2 separate regions of the Homo sapiens genome follow, and region 1 is linked to region 2. Evidence: fine-mapped expression QTL. A gene starts in region 2. The other region holds a variant in brackets. All regions are shown on one strand. Distances are between the middles of the regions.

Region 1 (5,519 bases), 29 kb after region 2:
ACATGTCAGAAGTAGAATTCATACCCCCAAGCACCAGCAGAGAGCTCTGTGGGGCTGGCCAAGCACACAGTGGGGCTTCACCCGTTCGTTCACACCTTCCCTTTACCCTCTCACCTTGGCTCTTAGCCTTTGTTGAATATCTGGGCTCTGGACCATTTCAGATCTACTGTCATTCTTTCTCAATGGCTAAGCCACCTGACATCTCCACATGGGATCTTCTAGTCCTCTGGTATTAACAGTATCTTTTGATTCCGGCTCACTCTGTCCAGACTAAACTAATCCCTATAAACCTGTTCAGAAAACTTGCTTATCAGTCCAAATTAAAATCAGGTTCTCTTCCTTGGGTGCCAATAGGTCACCATGAATGTCCCAAGTGTCTGAGGAGTAATGAAGAAACCACAGTTGATTGTTGCCTGGCAAGGGCTGACCAAGATAGACAAGAAGTTGCTCTGCAGAGCCCTGTTTTAACTCCAGCCTCATGCCAAACTGCTCAACTACCTTTGGTGCTAGAAGTGGTTGAAGGACTCAGTGGAAAGTAATTCCATGAAATTAGGACATCCTACCCCCAAATAAGCCTTTAACAGAAGTCCTCTCCCACAAGTGTGCAGCTGCTGTCACTACATAAGACCTGGAACTGAGGACTGCTGTCTGCCTCTCTCTGGTCACCCTGCCTATCTTGAGGATCTGTAAGTAGTGAAAACTCTGAAACTTTCACAGTGTGGCTGTGGTGGTCTCACCCACCCCTGATGGTGAGACCACCCCCGAGGAACCCAGGCAGCCAGATCCCCTGCTGGTTTCTTCTTCTGGGGCCTCTGGTGGCTGCTGGGCACAGTAGCTAAGTTAATGGAGAAACCCAAAGAGTTCTGTGTAAAACACCAAGACATGACCCTTCTAGGGGCTATCATGGAATATGGGCCTTTCTGAAGGGAGGACTGGAGGACATGACAAAGCTTAGATAAGGAACTGAGCTGTCTCAGTCTGGCAGCTGCACCACCATTTCACCTGCTTCTTTCCCCCAATTCTGGTCATGACAGAACTGTACGGTCATGTCTATGATGTCACAGGCACTGATGAGCTCTCATCCCTGGATTCTTCCCCTTCCAGCCTGAGACTCTTTTGTGTCTCACCATTTCTTGGAGTCACTGGGTTCCTCTATAAGGCCTTATGGTCTGAATGGTCCTGAGTATGAGCTCTGGCTCTTCTCTTGGGAAAGTCCCTGAGGAAGGGGGCTTCATTGGCTCTAATAGGAGCTTGGCAACTCCCCCCATAATCCCAGAGAAAAAAAAACCCTATCACTGACACCCTACCTCATCCCTTCAGAAATCCCTGTATGGGCTCAGAGAGCAGAGGTATGGTAACAGAGATTCCTGAAAGCCAGAGCTAAACACTTGAACGTGGAGCGGGGCAAGTGCAGCTGAGCAGAACAGAATTAGAAGAGCAGTCAGATATTCATGTGGCCAAGAAGCACGTGAAAAAATACTCATCACTAATCATAAGAGAAATGCAAATCAAAATCCCCATGAGATACCATCTCAAAGCAGTCAGAATGGCTATTACTAAAATGTCAAAAAATGACAGATGCTGGTGAGGATGCAGAGAAAAGGGAATGCTTATACACTGCTGGTGGGAATGTACATTAGTTCAGCCACTGTGGAAATCAGTTTGGAGATTTCTCAAAGAACTTAGAGCTACCATTCAACCCAGCAATCCCATTACTGGGCATACAGCCAAAGGAATAATCGTTCTACCAAAAAGACACACGCACACATATGTTCATTGTAGCGCTATTCACAATAGCAAAGACATGGAATCAATCTAGATGCCCATCAATGGTGAAGTAGATAAACAAAATGTCATACATATACACCATGGGATACTACACCACCATAAAAAAGAATTAAATCATGTCCTTTGCACCAACATGGATGGAGCTGGAGGCCATTATTTTAAGCGAATTAACAATGGAAGAGAAACCCAAATAACACGTGTTCTCACTTGTAACCGGGAGCTTAGAAGTACACATGGATACAAAGAGGGGAACAGCAGACACTGGGGCCTACTAGAGGGTAGAGAGTGGGAGGAGGGTGAGGACTGGAAAACTACCTATTGGATACTATGCTCATTACCTCGGTGACAAAATAATCTGTAAACCAAACCCCCTCGACAGTCAAGGTCTCAGCACCACAGCTGCCAGGGACACAGAGCACATCAGGGTCCTGTTGGCTTAGGGCAGTGCAGGAAGGTCTGTGGCTGCTCCCACCCCAGATCCACAGCTGTCACACCGTGCAGCACAGTACCCAGCCCCAAGCTGGTCCCACTTTGGCCCCCTCCCTCTCTCTCTTTTTTTTTTTTTTTTTTTT[G/TTTG]AGATGGAGTCTCACTCTGTCACCCAGGCTGGAGTATAGCGGTGCGATCTCGGCTCACTGCAACCTCCGCCTCCCGGATTCAAGCGATTCTCCTGCCTCAGTCTCCTGAGTAGCTAGGATTACAGGCACGCGCCACCCACACCCGGCTAATTTTTGTATTTTCAGTAGAGACGGGGTTTCACCATGTTGGTCAGGCTGGTCTCAAACTCCTGACCTCGTGATCCACCTGCCTGGGCCTCCCAAAGTGCTGGGATTACAGGCGTGAGCCACTGCGCCTGGCCTCTGGCCGTCTCTCGAGCAGAAAGCCAGCTGTATTGATCTGTCTGGGGGAGAGGTGTGACTCAGACACTGAGGACTTAACTAAAGTGCCCACACCTTGCTGGGCATTGCAATCCCTCCATCACAGAGCAGGCCTTTCAAAAACCAGCAGATTCTCATTCAGAGTAGGACCAGGTGAACATAACCTGCAGAGGAGAAAGGATGCATTTTACAGGAGACAAATCTCCCATCCTTAATATTGTCCCTCTTTGGGACAGCTGTTTAGACCCTAGGAAATAACCTTCCTCCAGAGAGTAAAAAATATTACCACCGTAGTTGGCCCAAAAGCAGCTACCGATTAAGAAAGCATTCAAGGCCAGGTGCGGTGGCTCACACCTGTAATCCCAGCACTTTGGGAGACCGAGGTGGGCAGATCATCTGAGGTCAGCAGATTGAGACCAGCCTGACCAACATGGAGAAACTCCATCTCTACTAAAAATACAAAATTAGCCAGGCATGGTGGTGCATGCCTGTGATCCCAGCTACTCGGGAGACTGAGGCAGGAGAATCGCTTGAACCCGGGACTCGGAGGTTGCAGTGAGCCAAGATTGCGTCACTGCACTCCAGCCTGGACAACAAAAGCGAAACTCCGTCTCAAAAAAAAAAGAAAAAAGAAAAAAAGAAAGCTTTCAAGCTCAACATCCAATTATTTTAAATCCTAATCACTCTATTGAACTCCTAACATTACATTAGACTAATCTATTACTTAATAGAAGCAATAATGTTAATATTAGTAACACGAAGACATTCTCCATTGCATAAGCTTATATCAAACCAGAATCCACTGATAGTTAACAGCCTAATATTAATAAAGAATAAATACCCTATTATTTATACCATTAATCCAACACAGGTATGCTCTAAGGAAAGATTACAAAAAGTATAAGGAACTCGGGAAATCTTACCCCACCTGTTTACCAAAAACATCACCTCTGGCTTCACCAGTATTAGAGGCACCGCCTGCCCAGTGACATATGTTCAACAGCTGCGGTATCCTGACATTGTAAAGGTAGCATAATCACTTGTTCCCTAAATAGGGACTTGTATGAATGGCCACACAAGGGTTCAGCTGTCTCTTACTTTCAGTCAGTGAAATTGACCTATCCATGAAGAGGCAGTATAAACAAATAAGATGAGAAGACTCTATAGAGCTTTAATTCATTAATGCAAATAGAAACTCAAAAAAAGCCTACAGGCCCTAGCCTACTATCTTTGCATTAAAAATTTTGGTTGGGGTGCCCGGCGTGGTGGCTCACGCCTATAATCCCAGCACTTTGGGAGGCTGAGACAGGCAGATCACGAGGTCAGGAGATCGAGACCATCCCGGCCAATATGGTGAAATCCCGTCTCTACTAAAAATACAAAAATTAGCTGGGTGTGGTGGTATGTGCCTGTAATCCCAGCTACTCAGGAGACTGAGGCAGGAGAATGGCTTTAACCCGGGAGGTGGAGATAGCAGTGAGCCAAGATCGTGCCACTGCACTCCAGCCTGGCAACAGAGCCAGACTCTGTCTTAAAAAATAAATAAATAAAAAACAAAAAAAATAAAAATTTTCTTTTATTTCAGAGCATAATTCAACCTCCAAACTACCTAAACTAAGACCGCACTAGTCTAAGCAAGTTAACACACACTGACCCAATAATTTGATCAACGGAATAAGTTATCCTAGGGATAACGGCACAATCCTATTCTAGGGTCCATATCAACAACAGGGTTTACAGCTTCAATGCTGGATCAGGACATCCTAATAGTGTAGCCGCTATTAAGGGTTCGTTTTTTCAACTATTAAAGTCCCATGTGATCTCAGTTCAGATCGGAGTAATCCAGGTCGGTTTCTAACTATTTAACATTTCTCCTAGTACAAAAGGACAAGAGAAGCAGGGCCCATTTCACAAAGCACCCTTGCCACCATAAATGATGCTGTCTCAATCTAACAAATCATCACACACTCTACCATCTTAAACAGTGTTTAAGATGGCAGACCCCGGCAATTACCTAAGACTTAAAACTTTAAAATCAGAGGTTCAACTCCTCTTCTTAACAATATGCCTATAATCAATCTTCTCCTACTTATTATTACCACTTTAATCGCTATAGTATTCCTTACACTCATTGAATGAAAACTCTTAGGCTACATACAATTACGCAAAGGACCTAACATTGTAGGTCCCCATGGACTGCTTCAACCATTCGCTGATGCAATAAAACTTTTCGTCAAAGAACCCTTACGTCCCTCAGCGTCTACTATTACCTTTTATACTACTGCTCCAACCCTAGCTGTTTTGATCGCTCTCCTCTTGTGAACTCCCCTCCGCATACCAGATGCTCTAATTAATTTTAATATAGGCCTCCTATTTATACTAGCCACATCAAGCCTAGCCATCTACTCTATCCTATGATCAGGATGAGCATCTAATTCAAATTACACACTAATCGGCACATTACAAGCTGTAGCCCAGACAATTTCATATCAAGTCACTCTAGCCATTATCCTTTTATCAGTTCTACTAATAAGTGGCTCATTTAACTTACATGCATTTATCACAACGCAAGAATTCCTCTGACTGCTTCTACCATCATAACCCCTAGCCATAATATGATTTATCTCCACACTAGCAGAAACAAACCGAGCCCCTTTTGAACTAACAGAAGGAGAATCAGAGTCAGTCTCAGGCTTTAACATCGAATATGCCACAGGTTCATTTGCCCTCTTCTTTATAGCAGAATATATGAATATTATCGTAATAAATGACTTAACTATTACCATTTTTCTAGGAGCACTACACACTATATATTCACCAGAACTCTATACCACAAATTTCATTACCAAGACCTTTCTT
Region 2 (5,000 bases):
GGAAGCAGTATGGTGAGGGGCTGTTAAAAGTCCTTCTTACCTAATACATTGTTCTGCCAAAGGCTTTCCTGGTAAGGAGATCCCAGTAGTAGTAGGGGTCTAAGAGGACCACCCCACCTTCATTCCCTAACAAGTTCTATTTTCCGAAGTACCTGCCGTTTGCTTCTTGCCTAGGTCCTGACTGGGGTCTGACTTCGGGGCGGGGAGTGGCAAGCAATGGCAACGCTGGCCAGTTGAACTGTAACTTCCTGATCCAAAGACAATAAGCTAGTCAGGCATTGTGTGGCTCACTCCTGTAATCCCAGCACTTTGGGAGGTCAAGACGGGCGGATCGCCTGGGCCCAAGAAGAGTTCAAGACCAGCCTGGGCAATGTGGAGAAACCCTGTCTCTACAAAAGTACAAAAATTAGCCACGCATGGTGGCATGTACCTGCAGTCCCAGCTACTTGAGAGGCTGAGGTGTGAGGAACACTTGAGCTGGACATGGAGGTTGCAGCGAGCTGAGATCGTGCCACTGCCCTCCAGCCTCAGCAACACAGTGAGACCCAGTCTCAAAAAAAAAAAAAAAAATCAAAGACAAAAAGCTAGGCCAGGTGTGGTGGCTCACGCCTGTAATCCCAGCACTTTGAGAGGCCAAGGCGGGAGGATCACTTGAGGTCAGGAGTTCGAGACTAGCCTGGCCAACATAGTGAAACCCCCTCTCTACTAAAAAGTACAAAAATTAGCTGGGCGTGGTGGCAGGCACCTGTAAACCCAGCTACTCAGGAGGCTGAGACCTGAGAATCGCTTGAACCTGGGGTGCAGAGGTTGCAGTGGGCTGAAATGGCACCACTGCACTCCAGCTTGGGAAACACAGCAAGACTCCATCTCAAAAAAAAAAAAAAAAAAAAAAAAAAAAAAAAAAAAAGACTATAAGCTAAACACTGGAAAGACAATAAGCTAGAACTTCCAATGAAATGAAGTTCCCCAAAGTCCAACTGCTACCCAACAGGGTGACCCTATCTGCTAAGAATTCTGCTAGTAGGAAAACTAAGTTGGGTGGGGGAAGAGCTGACAGAAGGGATTTAAGAACCTTACAATTACTTCTGGTGACACAAGGTGCATAAAGGAATGGTAAGAACCTTGGTCCTCTGTTGCCTCACTGGGTATCAGTAGTTGGATTTTCTAAAAACCTGTTAATAACTCAGGATAGGTTCCCAGATAGAGGCTGGAAGCAACTTCTGAAGCCATCCAGTCCACTTCTGAGACTTAAATAGGGAGAGATCCAGATACCAAACATTACCCAGATGAAAAAGAAATCGGCCGGGCACGGTGGCTCACACCTGTAGTCCCAGCACTTTGGGAGGCCGAGGCGGGCGGATCACGAGGTCAGGAGATCGAGACCATCCTGGCTAACACGGTGAAACCCTGTCTCTACTAAAAATACAAAAAATTAGCCGGGCGCGGTGGCGGGCGCCTGTAGTCCCAGCTACTCGGGAGGCTGAGGCAGGAGAATGGCGTGAACCCGGGAGGCGGAGCTTGCAGTGAGCCGAGATAGCGCCACTGCACTCGGGCCTGGGCGAAAGAGCAAGATTCCGTCTCAAAAAAAGAAAAAAAAAAAAAAAGAAAAGAAAAAGAAATCCCCAGGATGATGGGAGAGGACCCTCCTTACCCACTGCTTTGGTTTCTTGGATGCTCTGTGAAAATCTTCCACGAGGGTCACAATCTCCTTGCTGCTCATTGGACATCGATGCCTGACCCGAGCCTGGATCTCCGGGGGCAGGATGGTCAGGAACTGCTCCATCACCAGAAGCTCCAAAATCTGCTCCTTGGTGTGCAGCTCGGGTTGCAACCACTGACGGCAGAGCTGTCGGAGCTGGGAGAGAGCCTCTTGGGGTCCAGACACCTCTTGATAACAAAAGCGTCTGAAGCTCTGGCGGCAGAGCTCAGGATCTGGGCAGTTTTTTTGCAGAGGAGGGCCCCGTTTCTCTTCTAGTTTGGCTATTATGTGTCTCTCTTGCTTGGAGGAAGCTTCAGTGTTGGAGCTTAAAGTTATCTCCATTTTAGCTGCCATTTTGGGCGTCAGGAGACAACTCTCTCCTTGTAAACGGGTTAAGCCTTTGGGATCATGACCCTGGAGAAGTCTCTGAATACTAGAAAGATTCTAGAAACGAAGGTTCTCTGAGGATGTTAGGGGGAACGGGATGCAGAGACAAAGCCTCACTTGCTAGCCTTTACTAGCCAAACTCAAGACAACGCGGTCCCTGGGAGTGGGAAGAGTTTTGTCTTCTTGTCAGTTTTTTGCAGTCTTGCAAAGGAGAAAAGTCATAACGTCCTAAAAGGACTCTGGGGAAAAAATACTTCTTTTATTTCAGTAGCAAGCACACAGGTCTCGGATTTAATGAGCAATACGCTCTAACCGGCGGGTGGAGCGGAATCCCTAGGAAAAGTTCAAGCTGTCGCAGGTAGCTTGCCCCAACTCTCCCGCATCCTGGCGGAAACCGACCGGGTGCATGTCGCCGGGTGCTAAACGGTAGAGCTAAGCGAGGCCACAGCGCCAGCCGGGGGTGTGAGGTAGCGAACAGCCTCCTGCACGCGAGCAAAGCGGCTGCTCGCTGCCGAGGCGCCGCAGGCCCAGTGGCTCCGGCCTCCAGGGCGGCCCCGCGGCCCAGCCAGCCCCAGGCCTGGCGAAGCTGCCGCAACCCGATGCGCAGCTGAACTCCACGCCCGGTGTGAGCTCGGACTGGCGACTGCGACACCGGTACCCCGAACAGCCCGGCGCCCCGCACCCACCTGCAGCCGACTCACCTCTCCGGGAACCCAAGACCGAGGGACTTAGGACCCGACACCGGCGAGCACGGGCTGGGGGCGGGGCCGATGCCACTCGCTGCGGAGACGCCCACTAGCTGCTGAGGACAACTACTGACAGGGCCCGCCTCCTGCCAAGGGCATTCTCTACCGTCTATTGGTTGCTGCGCCTGTCAATACCGTCGCAGTGCATCCCGGGAGCTGCAGTCCGGCAATTCGGCTTGCGGGCCTGCGCAGGGGCGTGCGTAATGGGCGGAGCGAATCGCGCCGCTGACTTCCGGCCCGGAGGCTGAGGGAGTTTGTGGAGTCGCGAGTGCTGGTGTCCGGTGAGTTCTCCGCTTCCTTGCGGCCGGCGGGATTAGCCGCTGGGCCCTGCGACGGCCGAGGAGCCCCTCCCCGCTGGGAGTCTTCTCCGAGGCGTTCGGGTCCGGCCCCGATGGGCGTCTCCTTGGGACAGGCAGCCTCCCTCAGGCCGGGCGTCCCCAGACGCGCCGCGATCACCGTGCCCCGCTCCCACCGTGCGGATCACCCCGAGCCTGAGCGCCGGCGCCCCGGGACCCCCTGGCCTTGACCCTGCTCATCTCGTCCCTGTCTCGCCCACTCCCTACTCATCCACAGTGCCTAGCCCTGGCACCGAGTGCGTTCTGAGTACTCAATAAATAGTTAACTAAGTGAAAAACCTATCAACCTGGCTCCCCATCCTCATGCTACATTTTTTTCCGAGTGTTTGGGCCATCGCTAGAGTGAAGTAAAATTTTCAGAGAACAGCATTTTAAAATTTAACGATGAGTGGGAGGTAAGGGGTCAAAAGGGGTCAAGAAGGGTGCAGGTTCCGCCTTCTGCATGAAGTTAGAAGAGCTTTTATTAAATTCTTCTTCAGCCAGGTAAGGCACAGGATGAACATAATGAAGGCAAGGGGTGCTGGTTCTAGTCCTGGCCTTGCTGCCTAGGAGCTGTGCTGTGTGATGCTTTAGGCAAGATACTTCATCGCTCTCAGTTTCTTTTTGGCTAGAAAGCAGTGCTAACAATAATAATGCCCTTGATTTCTCTATCTCTAGAAGCACTGAAATGTAAAGAGAATTTAAGTGAAGGCAGTTCAAGTTCCTTGAGAAAAGGGAACCCAAATCCATTTTTAAAATATAAAAAAATTTCTTTAATTTTTAAAAAACATTTACCATCATAACCATTTTTAAGTGTACAGCTCAGTAGTCCTGAGTATATTCATCTTGTTGTGCATGCTGGATCCATTTTAATACCACATGGTGAGGGTGTATCAGCCCCTGGAGAAAATGTAAATTACGATCTGCTTTAATCTGTGTTTTAAGTAGATAAAAACCAACACAAACTCATTAAAAAAGACTGCCTTCGCGGGTGCAGTGGCTCACACCTGTAATCCCAGCACTTTGGGAGGCCAAGGTGGGAGGATCACTTGAGCACAGGAGTTTGAGACCAGCCTGGGCAACATAGTGAAACTCCACCTCTACAAAAAATACAAAAGTTAGCTTCTATTTAAAATTATTTTTAAGGTCGGGCATGGTGGCTTATACTTGTAATCCTAACACTTTGGGAGGTTGAGGTGGGAGGATTGCTTGAGTTCAGGAGTTTGAGACCAGCCTGGGCAACAGAGTGAGACTCCATCTCTAAAGATAAAAAAACAAATAAAATTATTTTTAAAAGTTATTTATTAATTTTAAATTATATAAAACTATTTTTAAAATTAACTCTTAAAAAAATATTGCCTTACATAAACTGGCCTTGGAGATCCAAACATGTTGTCAAGACTTGAGTATATTGTCCTCTTGTAAACAGGCTCACTCCTGTGATGGAAGAGTGGAGTAGAGAGTGGGACATAGTTGGAGACAACTCTGATCTTACATTTGCCCAATTTACCAATTCCTAGAAAATGAAGAGCTTTCCCTACCTCTCATGTAAAATCTGAGAAAAGAATTTTGATAGGCCTAGCTGTGTGTCATATGCCCACTTCTGGGGAAGTGGGTATTGTAATTAATATCCCCACCAGAACCAATGAGAGGGACTTTTTCTTTTTTTGAGACAGTCTCGCTCTTGTTGCCCAGGCTGGAGTGCAATGGCGTGATCACAGCTCACTGCAACCTCCGCCTCCCGGGTTCAAGCGATTCTCCTGCCTCAGCCTCCCGAGTAGCTGCGACTACAGGTGCGTGCCACCATGCCCAGCTAATTTTTTTGTATTTTTA

Direction of the effects. Alleles are on the strand shown, and positions count from the first base shown. SD is a standard deviation of normalised expression in the study named.
In carriers of allele G in region 1, the expression in monocytes after R848 of the gene that starts at base 3,054 in region 2 tends to be lower than with TTTG alone (moderate effect, 0.61 SD a copy in Quach 2016).

What was found.
Region 1: its variant is fine-mapped to the expression of ZSCAN32 in monocytes after R848 (Quach 2016, PIP 0.95).

What each region holds. Positions count from the first base shown.
Region 1 is chr16:3,370,111-3,375,629 of GRCh38, reverse strand. The region is part of intron 1 of LOC105371059 (a long non-coding RNA gene); the gene reads right to left. It also overlaps the pseudogene MTND1P8 and the pseudogene MTRNR2L4. Among named protein-coding and RNA genes, the nearest start is that of OR2C1, 17 kb to the right of the region's middle. The variant G/TTTG (reference allele first, on the strand shown) is at 2,361.
Region 2 is chr16:3,399,058-3,404,057 of GRCh38, reverse strand. It overlaps ZSCAN32 (zinc finger and SCAN domain containing 32), which reads left to right and starts at 3,054. Exons shown (of 7, transcript NM_001284527.2): 1 at 3,054-3,113. ZNF174 (zinc finger protein 174) reads right to left here and starts at 2,843. Exons shown (of 3, transcript NM_003450.3): 1 at 1,652-2,843. The coding sequence starts at 2,053. It overlaps LOC105371059 (a long non-coding RNA gene), which reads right to left. Exons shown (of 4, transcript XR_007064949.1): 3 at 4,532-5,000; 4 at 4,389-4,427. RefSeq lists silencers at 2,497-2,716, 3,267-3,416 and an enhancer at 2,794-3,293.